Linked DNA regions of Homo sapiens: region 2 is linked to region 1. Evidence: fine-mapped expression QTL. A gene starts in region 1. The other region holds a variant in brackets. All regions are shown on one strand. Distances are between the middles of the regions. Region 1 holds the start of OOSP3 (oocyte secreted protein family member 3). Region 2 overlaps OSBP (oxysterol binding protein).

Region 1 (2,919 bases):
GCTTTGTTTAGACTACTGATTCTGGAACTTGGCCCAATGTCATGCTAGTTGGACTGGTCTCTGTTTTCTTTTAGGTCATTCCAGATTCTCAAAAGATAATGACTAGTGGCACAGATAACATACATATTTTGCAAAGTTTATATTATAGATGTTGGAAGTCTCAGGAGATTATATGATGAGAAATAGGATTTGGATTCATTGTTTTATTCCTTATTGATCCATCAAAGATGTCATTTAATGAGTAGCCCCAGGCACATTTGGTTTATTATTTAAAATTATGATGTTACATTTCAGGTCAAAGGATGCTGAGAATTTATAATGTTGATGTTTTAAAAAGGATCTAATATAAAACAGATATAAATAAAATGAAAATAACTGAAAAAGAATTGGAGATCTGCCTCCCTCCTCCTTCATCAGCAGCCCTGAGGACTTCTGCTTAGAGTTTCTCAAAGTGTGAGCCTCCAGGAGTCACCTGGGGGCAGTTGTTTAAAAATGCAGATTCCTGGGTCTTGCCCCACTGAGTTAGACTGTGAGAATTTGCATGTTTGACAAGACCCTGCAGTGACTCATATGCATTCTTACATTTCCAGCTACAATAGATCTCAATGGACTAGATTGGGGTTAGAATACACATATTTTTAAATGGTGTTCCAGATAATTTTGAAAATTAATCTAAAATTTGGGAGCCATTGAAATAAATACTTTCTAAAGTGAACATGCCTGAGGCACAATCTCAAAGTATGATCCTGGGGTCAGCAGCATCAGCAGCACCTGGAAACTTTCAGCAATGTAAATTCTTGGCCCTTCCATTCCCAGCCCTGAATAAGAATTTCCTGAACACAGTTCAGCTATCGGTGTATTAACAAGTGCTGCAGGTGTTTTTGATGCTGCTAAAGTTTGAAAATCATTTCCCAACAATTCAATAAACATGCATTGACCTTCTGTGAACATTCTGTTCTAGGAACTTTGGAGGGCCTGAAGAAGTCACAGTTCTCAAAGATTTGTCAATGGGACTTTATTTGCAGCCTGATTTTGGTTCTGGAGTGATCAAGAGAATGTCAAGTTTCAGCAGGGAGAAAAAATTATTTCTGTGAATATAAAAATAGTGGTTTTTATAAAGAGTTTTAATTTTGTTCTTTATACTTTCTGTATTTTCCAAACATTAAGCAACTTAAATTGGCAAAAACAATACATTCCTGGAAAATATAAGCCATTGGCAAAAAGTGATTTGTAAATGTAGTCAGCTGGGTGTGGCAGCGGGTATAAAAGTATCAAAAGCAGGGCAGCCGCTTCCAATTTCCTGAATTTTTCAGGGGTCATTAGTTGGCAGCTGACGTCATGAAAGATTTTGTGAGGTTACAGTCCTCTTTCCTTTTGTGCACGATTTTGACTCTTTCTGAGCAAGAGTCAGGTACAAGTGACCTTTATATTTTGTTGTTTGAAGTCATAGTTTCTTAGCGGTTGTGGGCCTTTTACTGTTTGCTGTTTTGAGTGGAAGTGACTTTCCAGTATAGTTTTCTGACTTCTGTAGTGGTATTGCTTTCTCTTGTTTGCTCTCTACCACCCCGCAAAGCAAGTGATTTATCTAGTTTATCCTAATACTTGAGAAAGAGCTAGTTTTATTCTTCCTCTGGATTTAGGTGTTTTCTATTGTGTTTTGTCACCCTATTCACCCTACCTGTGGAAAAATATTTCTCTATTTAAGGTTTCAACTTGCTCTTCCACCTCCCACCCTGATCTCCCACTCATAATCCTGCCACCTGCCTCCTGTCCTGCCCTGTTGCCTCCTAAGTGGTCATGAGTTAGTGATCATAAATCAGGTTGAGAAAATAAAGTTCTTCATTTTTTCTCCTTTCACTTCTTATTCTCCCTAAGTCATAAAGTTGTTATCATTAATATTAATAGTTTTATTTGCATTCCACTTACTTTTTCCATATTTTACAGTAATCTTTTCTCATCTAAACTATATATTTTTATTTATGTACAAAGTTATTGGGTAGAAATAATACATATAAAATACATATAATTTTGTTATTTCTAGTTTTTTTTTTAAACCATGAAAATACAGTGATGAATTGCTTTATCTATAGGATATGTTTTTGTCTAAAAATGTTTTTTGGATATGCTTCTGGTAGTAGAATTAATAGACACAAAATGAAGAAATGCTGTTGTAACACCACAGCTGTGAATGTTTTGAGTTGACAGACTTACCACACAAGGTTTTAATCTGAGACTATCTTCCTTTTGCATCATAGAAGGATACAGGGTGGAGACAGAGCAGGTGCAGATCTTCATCTTATTGGCAGGTCTAGCAGATGCCCCAGGGTACAGTTTCCCTTGTCTCTTCACCCACACGGGATGTAGATGTCTGCCAGGGATGAGAGTCAGAGGCCATAGAAGCTGCAGCTTCAGTGCCCTATCAGTCATTTACACTGGCCTAATTATGTAAACTCAAGGCCAGCACACCAGCTTGAGGCTCCCCCAATCCATGGGCAGCCCCATACAGCAAAAGAAGCAGAGACAGCATCCCATATTTAGCTTAATGTTGAACTTTTAAGGAAACAGTACTCGCAGGGAAGGAGACAGAGGTTGTTTCCAGACAGGCTTGAATGGGACTGATCCTTCATTTACAATTTTACCATTTCATCTGAGTGATCATATTGTATCTCTCAAGGCTGTTTTACAGTGGTGTATATACATATGTTTAAATATGCTATGTTCAGACTTTCTCTGGGTGTCGTTTAGCATAAAATTGCTATCTAAATGTTTAAAAAAATTTTTTTTCAACAGTGTCAGTAGGATGTACTTCCTCTATGTTCTGGGTTGTGGCTGAACCAACTTTACTTGGTCAAGATCATATTTTGCATTCTGATGAAGCATCTCTGGGAACTGGCTGTCCTGTAACCAATGTAACTGCGA
Region 2 (2,919 bases), 300 kb before region 1:
AGATCGCGACACTGCACTCCAGCCTGGGTGACAGAGAGAGACTCCATCTCAAAAAAAAAAAAAGAAAAAAAAGAAATGGTGCTATCGATATTAGCTTCCGGAAATGAAAATGTGCATTTATGCATGATGTGATATAATCTAGGAGGAAAGTACTTAATTATCAGCTGCCTTCCAACCCAGAGTTTCTTCCAGAGCACAGGACTGTAGAGGTCACAAACTCAACCCAGCTTTGAATTCCAACACTGTGACTAACTGACCAGCTACATGACCATGAGTGAATTTATTTAAATTAGGTTTCCTTCATCTTCAAAATGATTGCAACATTTTCTTCTTAAAATCGTTTATGTGCAAGCCAGAGAATGGTCAGAGTTCCTATTTCAGCATGGAGGCAGATCCTATTCCATGGAGGCAGATGCTCAGCAAATGTGAGGTCCCTCCCACGGGCAGGAATTGTGCTTGCTCTGATCTGAGCCCCCGCCAGGACCATAGGTTACTTTGCCTATCCCCTCCCTGAACCTGAACTTTCCAGTGAAAACTTGTACAAACATGTTCACTGTCATTAGTTTTCTCAAAGGTCTTCAAATCAAAACTCAATTGCTTGTTTCAAAAACAGAACTTGAGGCCAAGTGCAGTGGCTCACACCTGTCTGTAATCCCAGCACTTTGGGGGGCAGAGGCTGGTGGATTGCTTGAACCCAGGAATTCAAGACCAGCCTGGGCAACATGGCAAAACCCTGTCTCTACTAAAAATTCAAAAATTAGCTGGTTCTGGTGGCATGCACCTGTGGTCCCAGCTACTTGGGGAGCTGAGGTGGCAAGAATCGCTTGAGCCTAGGAGGTGGATGTTACGGTGAGCTGTCATGCCACTGCCCTCCAGCCTGGGTGACAGAGTGAGACCCTGTCTCAAACAAAAAACAGAATTTGAATTCCTACATAAACAGCCAACAATCTGAGAATCTAAATGGACAAGATAAATTAAATTTACAGGGAAAATTTTTGAAGTGAAGCAGGCCCAGTACCAAAAACACTAAAAACGATTCCCCTGTACTAAGGTGGGATGTTGATGACTGTTAATTTAAGCAGCAGGGGCTGTTAAAACTACTCCTCTGCTCATGGCCCTCCGGAGTGGTGGTGAACAGCTTTACTTTCCATTTCTCATGAAGACCAGGGCTTCTGGGCGCTCAGATTCTTGAGCAGAACAAATTACCATTGGACCAGTTCTCCTTCACCTCCCCAACACCACTTACTGCCTAGCAGCAGAAGTGAATCAGACAAACAATATGACTTTTAAAAAATTATTTAATTTAGTAGTTTTTTTTTTTTGGAAAAAAATCAATAAGGCAAAAAAACTGAAAATATATATAGTTGTGTTTTGTTTTCATGTGACTTTATTCCACCTGAAAGATTCTAAACTTCTTCCATTAGCGGGAATCTGATTGGGATCAGCCAGAAATGTAGTGCAGATGGTGAAGGAAGAGAAGGGGATAAAGCAGAGAAGTCCAATTTAGTTGGGGAATTCTCACTCTATCCAAAGCCCCGGATGAGGTCACTGCTTTTATGAGCCTCCTTGAAAGAAGCCTTGACATAATCCCTGGCTTATTTTGGGAATAAGGTTCTTAGGAGGAAATTCCCCAGCAGTCAAAGTCACTCCTCTCCCATGTTTATCACAACTAGGAAGGAA[G/A]GGATAGGGGAAGAAATAAAAGTATTAATTTACCCAGTAAAACCAATTTCCCCATAGGGATGGCTTCCTTTGGAATGGTATTTCCCCCAGGACCCACGCTGGCTGAGGCTCAGCAGTTAAGGAACAAAAACAAAAAATACTAACAAAAAGCATACAAGGAAGGCACCTCAATTTGTGATCCTCAACCAAGGGTGGGTTGCACAGGGGATATTTCTCAACAAGACAACAAAAACAAATACTGCACAAACAGAGAAGGAAGCCAGGGCCCCACAGGAGCAATTATCTGATCCACCCCACATGACGGTGCTTTAAGCCCCACATCCTAGGAAGAAAGTTCTTTTGGAATTCAGCCTATGCGCCGGACAGAGCAGAATTAAATTGGAAGTTGCCCTCCGGACTTTCTACCCACACTCTTCCTGAAAAGAGAAAGAAAAGAGGCAGGAAAGAGGTTAGGATTTCATTTTCAAGAGTCAGCTAATTAGGAGAGCAGAGTTTAGACAGCAGTAGGCACCCCATGATACAAACCATGGACAAAGTCCCTGTTTAGTAACTGCCAGACATGATCCTGCTCAGGTTTTGAAATCTCTCTGCCCATAAAAGATGGAGAGCAGGAGTGCCATCCACATCAACACGTGTCCAAGAAAGAGTCTCAGGGAGACAAGGGTATCAAAAAACAAGATTCTTAATGGGAAGGAAATCAAACCAAAAAATTAGATTTTTCTCTACATATATATAATATACAGATATTTAACACATTATTCCAGAGGTGGCTCCAGTCCTTGGGGCTTGAGAGATGGTGAAAACTTTTGTTCCACATTAACTTCTGCTCTCAAATTCTGAAGTATATCAGAATGGGACAGGCAATGTTTTGCTCCACACTGGGGCACAGACCCAAAATGGTACTGTGCCAGAAGAAGAGAAGCCAGAAAGACAATGAAGGATGGCATTAAGGGGGGTTGGGAAAGCAAAAGTGGCTAGTAGTCTTTTTCCATCCTGCCTGTGTTCTCAGAAGCTCTCCGCCTGAGGAAGTCCATAAAACCCCTTTGTGAGGAGAATGCACCCCCTTACCAATGACCAAAGTGGTCTCCAGTTGCTATTAAAGATGATGGAGAACAACAGAGGGGTGTTTGATGCAAGTAAAAACAGAAACTTCCAAGAATGTAACTCTGAATATTCCAGCCCTATAGAACAATCTCTCTCACAGGTGTTCCAATATCGCAGTTATCTCCGCGTGGACAC

Evidence for each region. PIP is the estimated chance that this variant, and not a neighbour inherited with it, causes the effect.
Region 2: its variant is the best candidate, but not a certain one, in a credible set for the expression of OOSP3 in whole blood (INTERVAL, PIP 0.66).

What each region holds. Positions count from the first base shown.
Region 1 is chr11:59,877,471-59,880,389 of GRCh38, forward strand. It overlaps OOSP3 (oocyte secreted protein family member 3), which reads left to right and starts at 1,312. Exons shown (of 5, transcript NM_001395255.1): 1 at 1,312-1,411; 2 at 2,791-2,919. The coding sequence starts at 1,339.
Region 2 is chr11:59,573,118-59,576,036 of GRCh38, forward strand. It overlaps OSBP (oxysterol binding protein), which reads right to left. Exons shown (of 14, transcript NM_002556.3): 14 at 1,281-2,919. Among named protein-coding and RNA genes, the nearest start is that of TRF-GAA2-1, 8.1 kb to the left of the region's middle. The variant G/A (reference allele first, on the strand shown) is at 1,681.